4 linked regions of the Homo sapiens genome follow. The protein of the gene in region 3 interacts with the protein of the main gene of each other region in a pairwise test. Each region holds a gene or a part of one and is shown on either strand. Other genes may lie near its edges.

Region 1 (4,830 bases), on a different chromosome or scaffold from region 3:
GCAAACTTGTTTGAGTAACGGAACCCTCAGTGTGGGGCTGGCTCAAATGAGCCCCTTGTTTTCATTTCCTTATCAACCATCTTGTGTACAGTAGGTGCATCAAGGTCCCAAAGGCCAAAGCGTCCCAAATAATGCTAGACTCATTACTTACCATGGACCAAAGGGAACATAAAAGGAAACTGTTAAAAATAAGCTTTGGGAATGTTTTTAGGAAAAGGATATATTTTGGCTTTAGCTAGAAGTTTAGTATTTGCTATGGAGATAAGATATGCCAGACTTTCACTCAGTAAACACTGACTGAGCACTAATTAAGAACTGTGAGATATGCAGGCACGACAGACATGGCTTCTGCTCTGGGGCACCCAGCCTGGCACATGGATGAATGACCATGACTGGCTTAACTGAGGACGTGACAGGGGTCTGTACACATCCTTTGGAAGCCCTGGGGCTTTGCAGGAGGCTCTGTGGAGTAACGGATATTGGTGAGGAACTGTCTTTAGTTGGGGCCCCTACTTTAGGAAGCTGTGTGGGGGCTCCTGGCAAGCCCTGTTCTTCAGGCAGTTCCCGCTGTGGCTTGTGGTGGAAGTATGTCCAGACCCTTGCATTAGGGCTCATTTTCCTACCCACCGTCTCCACTGTCCTTGGATCAGACCCACCTGTCTTTACTGCCCACCTCATGCCCTCATGGAAGTGAACTGTGATCCCCCTGGTACCTGATGCTCTCTTAGAACCAAGGCTGGCTTGAGGCACGCCTTGAGCCAGAGTGAAGCACCAGTGGTGTGCACATATGAAACGTAGTGAAGGGCTTCCTGGGTCACTGATATGAGCAATCACAAACGGGATAAATGACCAGACAATGAGCCAGCGCACTAGTGTCTCACCAAGCCCTATTCCAGGATAAATACCAGGGCAGGGCTCTGCTGCATGGGGACGGGGAGCTGCCCTCCTGAGCTGGCCAAGCCTCTCAGTGCAAGACGGCAAGCCCTGGCTCCAGCAGCACGGCAGTCCGTGTTTTCAGGGCAGGGGGAGGGGGCGCTGGCTGGTTCTCCTGTCCCCACTCCCACCAAACACTGCCCCACCGTGAATGGTTCAGAGTGGAGCAGACAGGCCTGAAACTTTGCAGAGGGTGTCCCCACATCTGATTCCAGGACTGGTTTTCTCAGGCATTCAAGCCGACAGAGTGACAGCAGTCCCACTCACACATGCAGTTTTCTAGTTCCACCAATCTTGCCTTCTGACTTGATCTGAGAGTCCCAGGTTCTTCTTCTGAACAAGGGCTGTTGTGAGGGTGAAGCGGGACAGTGCTTAAGTGCTTAACATATAGTGAAAGCTCAACTAATAGTAGCTACTATTATTATTTTTATACATAGAAAAAGCTTTGCACTTGGGAATTTCAATTTGTAAATGATAAATAATTCATGGTAAGCATTTCAAGGCATCACAAACATTTGCTGCCCTGTTTTATCAAGGTAATTTCAGTTCGGAAGCAGATGTATAATATAATTGAAGTTAGTGCCCTGCTCCTGCCCATCCACAGGTGCCTCCCCACCTCTACCCCCGTGGAGTTACAATCTTCTGTATGTTTTGTTTACTTTTTTAGTTTTTGAGATAAGGTCTTGCTCAGTCACCCAGGTTGGAGTGCAGTGGTGCAATCTTGGCTCATTGCAGCCTCAACCTCCCAGGCTCAAGCGATCCTCCGCCTCAGCCTCCTGAGTAGCTGGGAATACGGGCACATGGACCATGCCCAGCTAATTGTTTTATTTTTTCTTTGTAGAGATGGAGTCTCCCTATGTTGCCCAGGCTGGTCTCAAACTTCCTGTGCTCAAGTTATCCTCCTGCCTTAGCTTCCCAAAGTGCTGGGATTACAGGTGTGAGCCACCGTGCCTGACCCCTGTGTGTCTTATAGCCAAGGCAGCTGTTGTACATTACACTTGACTTCTTCAGGCCAAGCCTTCCTATCCCGGAGAATTGTTACTCTGCATTTATGCTCTTCATCAGTGTTCAATACCCAAATTTTTCCCACCACGTTTGTAGCCCTGCACTGTGGTTGTTCCTCTGAGGCTGTGCACATCACTTAACAGCCACACCATTCATTTGGCTTCAATGTCAGGCAGAACTGTCAGGAAAAAGTTTCATGACACCTAGAAAGCAATTCAAGTGGGAAAAAGAATACAGGGTTAACAAATGTAGGCCACGTTCCCAAGAGTTACTTCAGCAACAAAGAAGACTTTCAAAACATTAAATTCCACTGGAAGCCTTTGAGACAGGGACTTCCACACACAGAACACACGAAAAGTTTAGGAGGGCCAAAAGTTTATTTTTATTTCAAGACATTTGCTCAGGCTGATCTAGATGGTATTTTTTTTTTTCAGGTATTTTAAGTATGATAACAACCTTCAGTTTTTCACCTCTTGGCTGTTCCATTCAGCCTTTTCCAGTAGCTCAGGGCCAGACACTGACCCCCAGAGATTTCTGCTTGGACAACAGCCCCCTGGTCACATGAGACATCTTTTCTGATATTTTGCATTTGATGTTCTTAGGTTATTTCGGACACAAATTATCAGAGTCACTCAACTTTTAATCATGTTTTGATGGTCCAAAATTCCATTTAAAAACAAGGTCGGCAACTCCTTTTATCTCTCTTAGGAAATCAAAGAGCAGGAGGTTGTGGACAAAGTCATGGAAACACTGGACAATGATGGAGACGGCGAATGTGACTTCCAGGAATTCATGGCCTTTGTTGCCATGGTTACTACTGCCTGCCACGAGTTCTTTGAACATGAGTGAGATTAGAAAGCAGCCAAACCTTTCCTGTAACAGAGACGGTCATGCAAGAAAGCAGACAGCAAGGGCTTGCAGCCTAGTAGGAGCTGAGCTTTCCAGCCGTGTTGTAGCTAATTAGGAAGCTTGATTTGCTTTGTGATTGAAAAATTGAAAACCTCTTTCCAAAGGCTGTTTTAACGGCCTGCATCATTCTTTCTGCTATATTAGGCCTGTGTGTAAGCTGACTGGCCCCAGGGACTCTTGTTAACAGTAACTTAGGAGTCAGGTCTCAGTGATAAAGCGTGCACCGTGCAGCCCGCCATGGCCGTGTAGACCCTAACCCGGAGGGAACCCTGACTACAGAAATTACCCCGGGGCACCCTTAAAACTTCCACTACCTTTAAAAAACAAAGCCTTATCCAGCATTATTTGAAAACACTGCTGTTCTTTAAATGCGTTCCTCATCCATGCAGATAACAGCTGGTTGGCCGGTGTGGCCCTGCAAGGGCGTGGTGGCTTCGGCCTGCTTCCCGGGATGCGCCTGATCACCAGGTGAACGCTCAGCGCTGGCAGCGCTCCTGGAAAAAGCAACTCCATCAGAACTCGCAATCCGAGCCAGCTCTGGGGGCTCCAGCGTGGCCTCCGTGACCCATGCGATTCAAGTCGCGGCTGCAGGATCCTTGCCTCCAACGTGCCTCCAGCACATGCGGCTTCCGAGGGCACTACCGGGGGCTCTGAGCCACCGCGAGGGCCTGCGTTCAATAAAAAGAGCGCAGCTTGGGAGGCCGAGGCAGGTGGATCACAAGGTCAGGAGTTGGAGACCAGCCTGACCAACATGGTGAAACCCCGTCTCTACCAAAAATACAAAAAGTAGCCTGGCGTGGTGGCGCGTGCCTATATTCCCAGCTACTTGGGAGGCTGAGGCAGGAGAATCGCTTGAACCCGGGAGGTGGAGGTTGCAGTGAGCCGAAATCGCGCCACTGCACTCCAGCCTGGGCGACAGAGCAAGACTCCTTCTCAAAAAAAAAAAAAGCGCAGCAACAGCGATCCAGCGCCATCAAAAGGCAACGCAAGCAAAAAACGCGGCTTCCCTTCTGCCCCCGCTAGGGGGAGGCTTCCCCGGGGGCGTCCAGCCACTCCACAGGGGACTTCCGGCCTGTTGGGTCACATGTTCTTCCCTAAGCCAATCACCAGGAAGGGGAGCTGCCAATGGTCCCGGGCAGTCACGTGCCTTTCCACAATGCATGCTGGGCCACCAGCCCCATTCCCGGTGTTCACTGCGCTCCCCGTGGTCCTTGGCCTCCATCTCAGAAAGCTCACGTTCCTCAGGGTCCCTCTGTGCCTTCTGAACAGTAGCGGGTAAAACAGGAAGTCCTGCCTGTCCCAGGCAGTGTGGGAGGCCCGGAGGCTCGCAGGGCCCGAGGCTGGGTGGGGCAGAGGTAGGAACCACAGCTGTGATGGCCGAGAGATGGGTTGGTGAGAGGGGCCTGGGAGAGGCCGGAGGGGACCCAGCGAGGCCACTTCACATCTAGCCACCTGGGGAGTCCCCAGGGCCCTGTGCTCACTTCTCGCTCAGCTCTCGCCTTCTGGAAATTCGTGGTTACTTTTGGCCAAAGGGCGATGTTTTCATTTCGCACCGGGCCCTGCAAAGCTGGTCCTGGTGCATGCTCTGGGCTGGCGGGCAGGAGACCAAGCTTGGGAGGCCCAGGGTGCGACCTTAAGTTGGGGGGCGGGAGGGGCGCTGCTGCCGGGGGGCAGCTCTGGGCTGCCCTTGGCTCGGGTGCCCGCCTCCCACCTGCATTCCTCCCCAGAGGATGCTCTGCCGCCTCGGCCGGAAGTTGAATCGGCCCTTCCAGAGCCTCTTTTGCCCACACTGATCCAAGAATCCTAAAGTGACTAAGTCCCCAGAAGCCTACTCTGCTTCCAAACCAGATAGGGAGAACATTGGTCCTCCAAGGAGCTTGGCTCCAGCACCATCCCTCAGGGATTCCCAGGGCAGCTTCTGAGCACACGGGGGCTCCTCCACCATCCAAAGGGGGTCTGGGGGGACTTATCCAATCAACTGCC
Region 2 (4,351 bases), on a different chromosome or scaffold from region 3:
GACAGAAGTTTGGAGGGCACTGGCCTAGATCAAGATCTCCTTAGTAAGGCAGTAAAGAGTTAAACTGTCCTGAATCCCCCTGCTTCTCATGGGGTGATGGCCTCAAGCTAATTAGGAGACACTGAGGGTTTGGGTTTTTTTTTTTCTAAAACCAGAAGAGTGGAAGTCTGGGACTATACTCTTATTTCTTTGAGCTCACTAAGGGAATAAAACCTATTCACCAGTTCTATCCATAGGGGAAGGCAAAGGCCTTAATTTCCAAGTAAGAATCTGCTCCTCCCCACAGCCTGAAACCTGACCTGTCTGTGAATGTGGTGGCCACCCAGCCAGTGACCGCTCATTTGCCAGGGACACAAAGACCATCACAAAGGCTGCACTGGAGTCAGAATCTTGGGCTGGCACTTAGCTTGGCTACTAACTTAGACTGGGTCCCAGGAATGATAACACCAGTGAAAAATCACAACAGCTAATAATTACAGAGACTTCCTGTCTGGCAGGAAGTGCTTTATAGCACAACAACACGACAGCCCTATCTGATAGGTGCTATTATTATCCTCATTGTACAGACGAGGACATTGAAGAACAGAGAGGTTAAGTAACTTGCTCCTGGTAACAAAGCTGTTGAGGACTGAACCAGGACTCAGACCATTCAGTCTGACTCAAGCTCACCCTGGGCTCTACTAATATGTGTACAGCTGATACAAAGCCCTTTCTAGACAAAGCTCTGTCATCCTCAAGACAGAAACTTGGGGATCTAATGTGGGTCCTGTACTTACGGATCAGGAAACAGAAGCTTCAAGATATTAGGGCTCACATGGGCACACTGTGGGGATAAGCACCCTCAAGCATCCCCAGTGTGGGTGCTCTGGTACCCCACTTTGAGGAACAGTGTGCTCCATCATTCTGCCTCTGGCCAGCTGCTCCGATTCAGAAGTCAGCAAACTATGAACCCATATGCCAAATTCAGTCTGTTTTGTATGGTACTCGAGCTACAGATGGTCTTTATATTTTTAAATAGTTGGGAAAAAAAAAAGCTGAAGAAGAATAATATTTCATGATATGTGAAAATTACGTGAAATTCAAATTTCATTGCCCATAAATATTTTTATTTATGCACAGTCATTCTCATTCATTTACCTATGGCCTATGTAGCTGCTTTTGTGCTATAATGGCAGAACTGGGTAGTTGCAGCAGAGACCATCTGGTTCACGAAGCCACAAGTATTTACTATCTGGCCCTTTATAGAAAAAGCTCACTGACCCTGGTCTAGTCTGCTAACCAACACAGGAATCCTCTTTATAGTCGCCCTCCCCACCCCGGCTTCTGCCTTCACAGCTCCAGTGGTGGGGAGCTCACTACTGAACAAGGCAGCCAGTTCCATCTTTGCAAGGCTCTGGGGATAGCTATTTATACTGAAACCGAACTGCTTATTCCTGTAACCACACACCATGCCCTTGGAGCCCTGCACATTCAGTTCTATCAGTCCTCCCCAGCACCCATCAGTTTTTTTTTTTTTTTTGAGATTGAGTCTCACTCTGTCACCAGGCTAGAGTGCAGCGGCGTGATCTTGGCTCACTGCAACCTTCGCCTCCCAGGTTCAAGTAATTTTCCTGCCTCAGCCTCCCAAGTTGCTGGGACTACAGGCGTGTGCCACCACGTCCAGCTAATTTTTGTATTTTTAGTAGAGACAGGGTTTCACCATGTTGGCCAGGATGGTCTCAATTTCTTGACCTCGTGATCCACCCGCCTCGGCCTCCCAACGTGCTGGGATTACAGGCGTGAGCCACCGTGCCTGGCCCGCCATCAGTTTCTTTCTTCCCTCTGGCATCAACCCTTCCCTGTCCCTATATATGACCTCTGTCGTTCCTTACCAATCCTCTGGGAAGCAGAGGGAGAATGACAGCACCTCTGTGTTGCCAATAGGGGAGATGGGCAATGGAGAGGGACCGTGACATAGTTAGGAGCAGAACCAGAGCTGGAACCAGGTGTCCCGCCTCCCAGCCTGGTGTCTCCTCAACATCGCTTAAGTGTCCACTTTCCAGCCCATCATTCCCCAACTGGCCCCCAAGGGCCTGAAGTGGTCTCTCACTTCTGTGATTCCTTCCTGTGGCTCCCCCGGCTTGGCTTTTGTGGATTCAAAGACAGCTCTCTCTGACTTTTTCACTTTTCCCCTCCAGGGCTCAGTCTTCAGGCTCTGGGCTCTTCTCCCCTCACACCCAGCTCCCACCACCCCAACCACTGAGGCTCATCCCCAGGGACTGCCCATATTTACCATCTCTGTTGTTTGCAACTTACTGTTGGCAATCAGCTAGGATTTGGACTCCAAGTGCTTAGGGGTAAGCTGACAGCCAGAAATGGAAAATGGGTTTCTTGATATCTGTCTATAAAACAGAGCCAGTAGGCCGGGTGCAGTGGCTCACGCCTGTAATCCCAGCACTTTGGGAGGCCGAGGTGGGTGGTTCATGAGGTCAGGAGATCGAGACCATCCTGGCTAACACGGTGAAACCCCGTCTCTACTAAAAATACAAAAAATTAGCCAGGTGTGGTGGCGGGTGCCTGTAGTCCCAGCTACTTGGGAGGCTGAGGCAGGAGAATGGCGTGAACCCGGGAGGTGGAGCTTGCAGTGAGCCGAGATCGCGCCACTGCACTCCCGCCTGGGCGACAGAGTGAGACTCTGTCTCATAAAAAACAAAAAACAAAAAACAAAACAGATCCAGTAAGATTTGTCTGCAGAGAATATCTGGAAAGGGTTTGAAATCCTTGAAAGAAGAGGGCTGTGACAACACCAGCTGGTACAAAGGATCTGGAATCCTCTCAGCTACGGGTGCTGCCCTTGGGAAGCTCCCCTACTCATCGATGAGGGGAGGGGCCTGCAAGTGTGAGACCCATGTACATGTCCTTATCTGAGGGTAGAATAAGAGTTGTGGCTCTTGGAGGGTGGGACAGACATCAATTCAAAAGAAGCACTGGGCAGCTCGAGGCAGTGTGGTGAGGGTACAAAAGAAGACCTGGGTCTGGATTCTGACCTTGAGTGGCTGTGGAACCCTGGAAAGCGATGCTTTCTCTTAGACTGACTTTTGGTGAAATGGGAAAAAAATAGCAAAACCGCACAGGGTCACCATGAGATTAATACCCAGGACGCTAGCAGAATACCTGGCAGAGTTATTATGGTGTTTGCTCACAAAATGTTACTTTCCTTTTCTCCCTTCCTCCTTCCTGCTATGTGCCAGGCACCGTGCTAGGTGCTGAGGGTCTGGAGAAATAAGGCACAGTTCCTGCTCTCAAGAGGTTCAGCCTAGCTGTGGAGACAGACATGCACAACCACTAACAGAGTGGGACGGTGGCATATTAGTATAATGAGGGTAGAAATAATAAAAATAAGCCAAGCGTGGTGGCTCACACCTGCAATCCCAGCACTTTGGGAGGCTAAGGTGGCTGGATCACTTGAGGTCAGGAGTTCAAGACCAGCTTGGCTAACATGGTGAAACCCCATCTCTACTAAAAATACAAAAATTAGCCGGGCATGGTGGTGTGCACCTCTAATCCCAGCTACTCGGGAGGCTGAGGCAGGAGAATCACTTGAACCTGGGGGGCAGAGGTTGCAGTGAGCTGAGGCTGTGCCACTGCATTCCAGCCTTTTTTGAGACTCTGTCTCAAAAAAAAAAAAAAAAAAGAAATAATAAAAATGATGATGGTGATGATGACAGGAAGAGCTAATGTTTCCATACACTCACACTGTGCGAGACACTCTCAGAGGACTATCTTGTTTCATTCCAGCAACCACCCTGTGAGGCAGATGCTGTTAGTAACATTCTACCAAGGAGGAAGCGGAGATTCAGAGCCCAAAGTCATAGGGCAAGGGGGCCTGAGGATCTAGGATAAAGGGAGAGTAAAAGAGCAACGTCGGGCTTGGGGCAAGCCTCAGGGAGGAGGTGATGATGCCCTGTACTTTGAAGGGTGATCTGGAGCTCCTCAGTGGGGGCACAGGAGCAAGCAACCCAGGCAGAGGGACCAGCAAGCACAAAGGGGTGTGTGTGTGTGTGTGTTGGGAGGGGAGGTGGATGAGAACTTTGTGATTCCAGTGACTGACACTCATTCCTGATTAGCATCATTAGAATCACCATCTGAGGGATGTCAATTCCATATGGCTCTACAGCTCTACTATCAACAAGGGCATGGGAGTCGGCAGGCTTGAGAAGAGATGGTACTCCTGCAGCAAGGAGGGGCCTGGTTTACAGAATTATAAGCAGCTATACTGTGTCATCAGTAATCACAGCCAGGGAGCAGTACTTCCTCCGCCTCTTTATCTAAAAGAATATGGAATACTGAGGGGATTAACTCAAACTCTTAA
Region 3 (4,517 bases):
GACGCAATCTTGGCTCACTGCAACTTCCGCCTCCTGGGTTCAAGTGATTCTCATGCCTCAGCCTCCCGAGTAACTGGGATTACAGGCATGCACCACCACGCCCGGCTAATTTTGTATTTTTAGTAGAAATGTGGTTTCTCCACGTCAGTCAGGCTGGTCTCGAACTCCCGACCTCAGGTGATCCGCGCGTCTCGGCCTCCCAAAGTGCTGGGATTACAGGCGTGGGCCACCGTGCCCGGCTGAGACAGAATCTTGCACTGTCATCCAAGCTGGAGTGCAGTGGCACAATCTTGGGTCACTGCAACCTCCCCCTCCCGGTTCAAGCAATTCTCCTGCCTCAGCCTCCTTAGTAGCTGGGATTACAGGTGCCCGCCAACACACCTGGCTAATTTTTGTACTTTTAGTAGAGACGGGGTTTCACCATGTTTGCCAGGCTGGTCTCGAACCCCTGGCCTCAAGTGATCCACCCGCCGCAGACTCCCAGAGTGCTGGGATTTCAGGTGTGAGCCACTATGCCCGGCCTAATACGTGGATTTTTAAAGCTTCAGGTTCTGGTTCAGAAGTTTCCTGGGTCTCATTAAAATAATGAGGCACTCAGAATTGGTCTAATAAAAATAACGACCATTTCTTTCTACTCCAGTCTCTTTCACAAACTTCTTAGTGAAAATGACAAGTGAGGCCCTTCAGTAGGGGCATTTTCAGTGGAGATAATAGCGGCAGACCTGAGACCTTGGGCTAGGTAGTTTATTCTCATTTCTGAACAGATGATGAATTTTCTCAGATGACCCTAAGAAATTGTTTTACCAAAAACAAAGTGATCTATTTGCTTTGGGAGGAACTCCCTTCCTTTTGTTTCTCTTCCCTTCCCCCCTTCCCCTGCGGTTGTAGAGCCCGTTCTGTCCGGTCGTGGTTCTGTCCAGCCATGATCCGGGAGTCCTAGCTTGCTAATGGAACACCTGAGATGTTCCTTATGGCTCAAGGCTTGAATTGAAGGTGGGAACCACCTGAAGCCTCCGTGGGGAGGCCTTGCCTGAGGTTAGGTGTCTGGCATGAGTGCCGCCGGCTGGGTGTGATTTAGGTGAAGGACATCTGTAAAGGAGCGTGTCACAACCTCTGTTCCTTCTTCACATCTAGTGGTATCCTGAGGTGCGGCACCACTGTCCCAACACTCCCATCATCCTAGTGGGAACTAAACTTGATCTTAGGGATGATAAAGACACGATCGAGAAACTGAAGGAGAAGAAGCTGACTCCCATCACCTATCCGCAGGGTCTAGCCATGGCTAAGGAGATTGGTATGGAATCCTGTGTTTTTCCTCCTCCTTGTACCTCTTTTATTGTAGTGACAGAGACTGGAGTCCAGTCTGGGAAAGGAGGGTGTGTGTCTCCCACTCAGGGCCTGGTGTACTCTTGGGGAACCAGCTGGCAAGGCCCTGTGGGTCTTAACGTCAGCGTTGGAAGGTGGAAGCAGGGCTGGGAGCCGGCAGAAGGCGCCCGGGCCCCAGGAGCTGCCTCCCGCTGGTGGTGTGATCAGAAGAGAGTGGGGTCGAGTGTACATTGCCGTGTGGTCGTGTTTCCTGTAGGTGCTGTAAAATACCTGGAGTGCTCGGCGCTCACACAGCGAGGCCTCAAGACAGTGTTTGACGAAGCGATCCGAGCAGTCCTCTGCCCGCCTCCCGTGAAGAAGAGGAAGAGAAAATGCCTGCTGTTGTAAATGTCTCAGCCCCTCGTTCTTGGTCCTGTCCCTTGGAACCTTTGTACGCTTTGCTCAAAAAAAAACAAAAAAAAAAAACAAAAAAAAAAAACAACGGTGGAGCCTTCGCACTCAATGCCAACTTTTTGTTACAGATTAATTTTTCCATAAAACCATTTTTTGAACCAATCAGTAATTTTAAGGTTTTGTTTGTTCTAAATGTAAGAGTTCAGACTCACATTCTATTAAAATTTAGCCCTAAAATGACAAGCCTTCTTAAAGCCTTATTTTTCAAAAGCGCCCCCCCCATTCTTGTTCAGATTAAGAGTTGCCAAAATACCTTCTGAACTACACTGCATTGTTGTGCCGAGAACACCGAGCACTGAACTTTGCAAAGACCTTCGTCTTTGAGAAGACGGTAGCTTCTGCAGTTAGGAGGTGCAGACACTTGCTCTCCTATGTAGTTCTCAGATGCGTAAAGCAGAACAGCCTCCCGAATGAAGCGTTGCCATTGAACTCACCAGTGAGTTAGCAGCACGTGTTCCCGACATAACATTGTACTGTAATGGAGTGAGCGTAGCAGCTCAGCTCTTTGGATCAGTCTTTGTGATTTCATAGCGAGTTTTCTGACCAGCTTTTGCGGAGATTTTGAACAGAACTGCTATTTCCTCTAATGAAGAATTCTGTTTAGCTGTGGGTGTGCCGGGTGGGGTGTGTGTGATCAAAGGACAAAGACAGTATTTTGACAAAATACGAAGTGGAGATTTACACTACATTGTACAAGGAATGAAAGTGTCACGGGTAAAAACTCTAAAAGGTTAATTTCTGTCAAATGCAGTAGATGATGAAAGAAAGGTTGGTATTATCAGGAAATGTTTTCTTAAGCTTTTCCTTTCTCTTACACCTGCCATGCCTCCCCAAATTGGGCATTTAATTCATCTTTAAACTGGTTGTTCTGTTAGTCGCTAACTTAGTAAGTGCTTTTCTTATAGAACCCCTTCTGACTGAGCAATATGCCTCCTTGTATTATAAAATCTTTCTGATAATGCATTAGAAGGTTTTTTTGTCGATTAGTAAAAGTGCTTTCCATGTTACTTTATTCAGAGCTAATAAGTGCTTTCCTTAGTTTTCTAGTAACTAGGTGTAAAAATCATGTGTTGCAGCTTTATAGTTTTTAAAATATTTTAGATAATTCTTAAACTATGAACCTTCTTAACATCACTGTCTTGCCAGATTACCGACACTGTCACTTGACCAATACTGACCCTCTTTACCTCGCCCACGCGGACACACGCCTCCTGTAGTCGCTTTGCCTATTGATGTTCCTTTGGGTCTGTGAGGTTCTGTAAACTGTGCTAGTGCTGACGATGTTCTGTACAACTTAACTCACTGGCGAGAATACAGCGTGGGACCCTTCAGCCACTACAACAGAATTTTTTAAATTGACAGTTGCAGAATTGTGGAGTGTTTTTACATTGATCTTTTGCTAATGCAATTAGCATTATGTTTTGCATGTATGACTTAATAAATCCTTGAATCATACGACTGGTAATACTGGTGTTTTTGAGACTTGATGAACAAGTTCCTGGTGTGTGTTTGTTTGCCTTGCTTTAAAGTCCTGGGTTGTTGGAGACAGTCATTTTCAATGCGTGTCTCCACACAGGAGGGACAGGGAGTGCCACCTCCAGGGGAGAACTGGGTGAGCCCAAATACGGCAGGAGTGGAGGTGACATTCATGTTTGGACCTGTCGAACAGTGGCGAAGCTCTGAGGGAGAAGCGCCTATCGGGGTGTGTGTGCACATCCTGGCCCAGAGCTAGGGGCTGAAGATGGAGATGTTGGGACCCTAGACTGGCCCTGGAAGAGTAGAGGTTGGTGAACCACATGCCCTTAAGATCCTTTCCAGAGGCTGAGTGCGTGGCTTACGCCTCTAAGCCCGACGCTTTGGGAGGCTGACACAGGAGGAGCGCTTAAGCCCAGGAGTTCTAGACCAGCCTGGACAAGAAAGAGACCTACCCAAAAAAAAAATGCAAGAGCCTGAACTTGTACTACATAAAGGTTCATGTTAGAATTCGTTTTCTTAATATTCCTTTTTATTGCTTTGAAGATTGTTTTTGAGTTTTTGTTTTTTTTTTAAGATGGAGTTTTGCTCTTGTTGCCCAGGCTGGGAGTGCAATGGTGTGATCTCGGCTCACTGCAATCTCTGCCTCTCGGGTTCAAGCGATTCTCCTGCCTCAGACTCCCGAGTAGCTGGGATTACAGGTGCCTCCCCCCACGCCTGGCTAATTTTTTGTATTTTTTCACCATAGTTTCACCATGGCCAGGCTGGTCTTGAACTCCCAACCTTAGGTGATCTGCTCGGCCTCCCAGAGTGCTGGGATTAAAAGCGTGAGCCACCGCCTCCAGCTGAGTATTTTTTTTTTAAACAGATATAAATAATGCAGATTTTGTTTTTTGAGATAAGATCTGGCTCTGTCTCACAGGCTGGAGTGCAGTGGCGTGATCTTGGCTCGCTGCAACCTATGCCTCCTGCACTCAAGCCATCCTCCCACTTCAGCCTCTGGAGTAGCTGGGACCACAGGTGCGCACCACCACACCCAGCTAATTTTGTGTGTATTTTTTGTAGGGTTTTGCCATGTTGGCCAGGCTGGTCTTGAACTCCTGAGCTCAAGCAATCCACCAGCCTCGACCTCCCAAAGTGCTGGGACTCCAGGTGTGAGCCACCAGCCTCGACCTCCCAAAGTGCTGGGACTCCAGGTGTGAGCCACCATACCTGTCAATATGCAGTTTTTAAAAGTAAAAGTTTTAGTGGTTTCTAAAGAAAAA
Region 4 (4,351 bases), on a different chromosome or scaffold from region 3:
TGTGACAGTGACACGCTGCCATGGCAGTGCTGCTGCTCACCCCCATGGCTGTGTCATCCATGGCCAGAAGAAGCCCACTGTCTTACCTGATGGTGGCTGTAGTGCCGGATAAATGCTTTCAGGAAGGATTTGGGCCACTCGCTTAGATAGCACATGCCACTCTCCAGAAGCCCCTTACCACCGAATTCTTCTGTAACATCAGTGCCAGGGGACCTTCACTCTGTCTTGTCCTGACCTTAGCTGGGTTCTGTCCACTAGTCAGTTTCATGGCCACTCCTTCCCCCTCCCCAGGCCCCTGCACAAGCCCCGCAGGGGGAGCGTCAGGTTACATCATTTCAACTTTGTTGACGTCAATGGCTGGCACTCTAAGGTCAGGTTCAGGAGTTGTGTCATTAGCACCTCAATCCCAGCGGGAGGCCCTGAATTCCACTCCCTGAGTTACCTCAGTGTGAATCTCTACACTGTATTTTTGGGTCTCTCTTCAGCCCAAGAACGGGTAACAGAGCAAGGTGGAAGCTTGGGGGGTCACTGGGTCCCTCTCTCCTCCAGCCTCCCGGCCCAGGGCCTCAGCCCTTCATAGAGAGGCTGCAGCTGGAAGCTGCATGCTCTCCACTGACTCGTCCTCAGAAGAGGGCCAGAGCAGCGTTACCTCTTTCTGTGGGTATCCCAAGGGTTCTGGAAGACCGGGGCAGTCTGTCCGTCCCACCACAGAGGGGACATGCTGGGCCCAGCCCTTGGGATTTCTGGCCTGAGCAGGGGGTACAGAATGCAGATTTCTGGCCTAGATCTGACAGTACCTCCTTCCCTATAAAATCAGACTGAGCATTTCATTAAAGGTGAGAATAACTTGGGAGGCTTGACTCACAGCTTGGGCTTTAGTTGCTACAGAAGTTCAGCCCACCTGCTCCAAAAGGGCACCCTTGCTTTCTCCCTACCTCAGTGCAAGGAGTTCCCAGCTAGGGCTGGGTGCGGTGGCTCACGCCTATAATCCCAGCACTTTGGGAGGCCGAGGTGGGCAGATCACCTGAGATCAGGAGTTTGAGACCAGCCTCGCTAACATGGCAAAACCCTGTCTCTATTAAAATACAAAAATTAGCTGGGCGTAGTGGTATGCCCCTGTAATCCCAGCTACTTAGGAGGCTGAGGCAGGAGAATCACTTGAACTCGGGAGGCGGAGGTTGCAGTGAGCCAAGATTGCACCACTGCACTCCAGGCTGGGTGACAGAGCGAGACTCCATCTCAAAAAAAAAAAAAAAAAAAGGAGCTCCCAGATGACAGGAGATGGAAGCATCTGCTTGAGTGGGTGGTACTAAATCTTAGGGTGGGAGGCTGGCCTTTCGCACCCACCACCTCTGAAAGCTCATCTCTCCACATAGCCTGGATTCTCTCACCCCCTCTGCTCAGGCCTGTGGGGCAGGGGTGCCTCCCTGAGACAGGCCTGGGCTGCCCACACTGGGCTGTGATGGAGGAGTATGAACTCTCCTAGCAGCAGGGGCGAGAAATATCTTTATAAATTAGATATGTTGCTTGCTTGCTCAGTAGTTTCTTGTACCCCAAACCAAACCTAAATCCAAACTCCTTACTTTGACTTATCAAAGCCCAATCTCCTCTCCTACCAGTCTTCCTGGCTACAAAGTCCTCCTTTCAGTTCTTCCCACAGGCCGAACGCTCTCCAGCCTCAGGGCCTTGGCGTATGCTTGTTCCCTCTGCTTGGACTGCTTCCCCCACTTCCCTGCCTGGCCACCTCCTTTCCAGAGAGGTCTTCCCTGCTCACCTACCCAGACAGAACCGACTCCTGCACCCCGGAGATGTTTCAATTCCTTCACAGATCGACTACAATTTGTAATTTAAGGTTTGTTTTCTCTGTGAATTGTTTTCTCTGTCACCTTCGCTGGACAGAAAAATCCCATGAGGGGAAAGATGAGATCTATTTTGTTCTAAATTTCTCGTGCCCAACACATAATAAGCTCTCAATAAAGAAGTATTGAATGAATTTATCTGCCTGCCTCCTGGTATGCCCACATGGTTCAGGTGGGAGGGAGGTAACCATGGGAACAGAAGGGGAAGGGAAATGATGTTGTCCCCATAATGCCCCATGCGGTGGCACCAGGAGCTTTTCATGGGCTTTATTCCATTTGTTTATCACATTGGGGCAATATTCTCACATAATGCTGCAGCTGAGGAAACTGAGGATCAGAGAGGTTAAGTCAACTCACCCAGTGTCCCACAGCTAATAAGCAGAGCTAGGATATGAACCTAAGTCTGACTCCAAAGCCCATGTTCTTTCTGCTACGCCACGATGACCATTGATTGTGACTCAGGCCTGGCAGGGGAAAATAACTCCCAATGTCCCTTTAGGCCAAAATTTCCAACCCTTTGCTTTCAAGAACTCCTTTCTTATCTCTAAGCCCCATCTCTCTCCTCTGCACTGTTAAGAAAACACTTTTGGCTTGGTCTATAATGAGTGAGAAAATGGGACATCTTTTGAATGACTCTTTGAACCCAAGTGTTGTACTTTCTAAGGGGAGCATAAAAATCACGTCTGCTTTGGCTGAAGAGAGGACACCCTGACTAAAGACTTCTAGCCTAGTTATAACCCTGGGTGGTGACACAAGAAAGAAGATGGGACAGAGAATCTCTTATTGACTGAGGCCTTAGGACTGAAGTTCCCTCTTATCCCTCTTTGCAGAAATGTATCTTGCTGTAGCATTAGATTTCAGTAGTGAGGAACTGTCCTCCTTAGACCATGTTTATTGTGCATTAGGTGGAAAACTGAGGTAGAAGAGTAAGGTAACTTGCAATGTTAGGGTCTAGGGTTCTGTTTTTCTCCCTTCCCTGGGCCAAGCACAGATCACTTGGAGATGGTCTTGGTGGAAAGGAGCCTGTCCCTGAAGGTCCCGGGCTCCTGGCCCTTGTCAGCAGCCCTCCAGCACTGACCACTGCTCCCAGAGGTCTCATCCTACCTGTCTCCTGAGACAGCTGCAGAGCTCAGCTCTTCGGCCTCATGTCCACCCACTGTCACCGGTTAGGTCACTCAAACCCTGTCCTCAGTTCTGCCATTGCTCGCTTCACCACATCCCAAGTGGGACTCAGCTGCAGTGGAACAGATCCTTCCCCTGACACACTGGAATCTCCTTGTCCTCACTCAGAACATTCCATCTACCGCCATGTCTGACTTGTCTATTTAAACAATTCTCTATAGACCATACCAGCTAACAGGGAAAATAGATCTGGTTTGTGTAGAATGCTCTTTAAATATGAATCTAAGTGATAGATCATCAAAAACTTGAAAACTGGTTACACAGGAGATCCTGCAAAGGGAGGGATCATTCTCACCCAGAAATATCTCAGAAAGACTCAGAAAGAACAGCACTGCTTTGTTCTCTGACCACACCTGAGTGAAAACACACACTCACACCTCACTCTTCAGGCATTAAAAGGCACCAGGAAAGAAAGCTGAGAAAGATGGAAGTTTCTCTAAAGCCTGAACGTGCAGTAACAATACCACCATCACTTAAATTACTTTTTCTTTGTAGTCTTCCCTGTGGTCCAAATCAAATTACTTTTCCAATATTAAAAAATTATATAGTTTCCTCTCTTCTGGAATTCTGCCTAGCACTAGCCCGAGGATCAGTTTTGGGGAGCCCCTGCTCTAGGGTGCTTTGTACCATTGTCCCAGTACCCTGTACTCAGGTACATACGAAGCACTAGGCACGCAGTAAATCTCCCACACTCCTTTCTTCCCTTCCTTCCAAACATGTTCTTCATTTCCCTGTGGAACCCAGAACCATGTCATGCACACAAGCGCACGGTGCCCAGTGGCGTCCGTTGATGAAACGTGAACTCTATTTGCTCTAGTCTAGAGCCTTCTTTCTGACCTGTTGGCCCAGGCCTGGGTCACCACCTTTCCACTGGTCCTCAGCACATATATTCTGGGTCTGCCTCCCCTTAGTTCACTTCCAATTCATCACAAAAAAGTAGGTCCCAGCGACTCCATCTATCCACAATGGACAGCTTTCCTCCTCTCATCTGAATCCTGCCTTCATTTCAGATGAGGCCCAAGTCCCCTCTTCTAGAGTCTGGAGCCTCCTCACCTGCCTCCCAGCCTGAGTCTCTTTCTGTCTGGCTCACTTATCCCAGCCAGCCTCTCCCTACTGACTGTCCACTGCCTGAGGAACTTTACGTGTATTATCTTTAATATCCTAACAACCCTCTGAGGTGAACGTTATCATCCCCACTTTACAGATGAGGAAACAGAGGCTCAGAGAAGTGACAGAATTGAGACCCCAACCTATGCCTACTGGCTCCAAAACCTCTGCTTTTTTTCAATCTACCACATGGTATCCACTTA

The links.
Region 1: the proteins of RAC1 (region 3) and S100B interact in binary tests that used the Homo sapiens proteins (3 or more experiments, as listed by UniProt).
Region 2: the proteins of RAC1 (region 3) and TOM1 interact in binary tests that used the Homo sapiens proteins (3 or more experiments, as listed by UniProt).
Region 4: the proteins of RAC1 (region 3) and USH1C interact in binary tests that used the Homo sapiens proteins (3 or more experiments, as listed by UniProt).

The regions. Positions count from the first base shown.
Region 1 is NC_000021.9:46,597,320-46,602,149, reverse strand, and holds the end of S100B (protein S100-B), read left to right. Parts: intron 1-2,646; coding exon 2,647-2,787; 3' UTR 2,788-3,546; downstream 3,547-4,830. UniProt on the Homo sapiens protein: Small zinc- and- and calcium-binding protein that is highly expressed in astrocytes and constitutes one of the most abundant soluble proteins in brain.
Region 2 is NC_000022.11:35,302,827-35,307,177, reverse strand, and holds part of TOM1 (target of Myb1 membrane trafficking protein), read right to left. Parts: intron 1-4,351.
Region 3 is NC_000007.14:6,400,734-6,405,250, forward strand, and holds the end of RAC1 (ras-related C3 botulinum toxin substrate 1), read left to right. Parts: intron 1-1,134; coding exon 1,135-1,294; intron 1,295-1,582; coding exon 1,583-1,713; 3' UTR 1,714-3,234; downstream 3,235-4,517. UniProt on the Homo sapiens protein: Plasma membrane-associated small GTPase which cycles between active GTP-bound and inactive GDP-bound states.
Region 4 is NC_000011.10:17,533,633-17,537,983, forward strand, and holds part of USH1C (harmonin), read right to left. Parts: intron 254-4,351; exon of another isoform or gene 156-253; coding exon of another isoform or gene 87-155; intron 1-86. UniProt on the Homo sapiens protein: Anchoring/scaffolding protein that is a part of the functional network formed by USH1C, USH1G, CDH23 and MYO7A that mediates mechanotransduction in cochlear hair cells. Required for normal development and maintenance of cochlear hair cell bundles.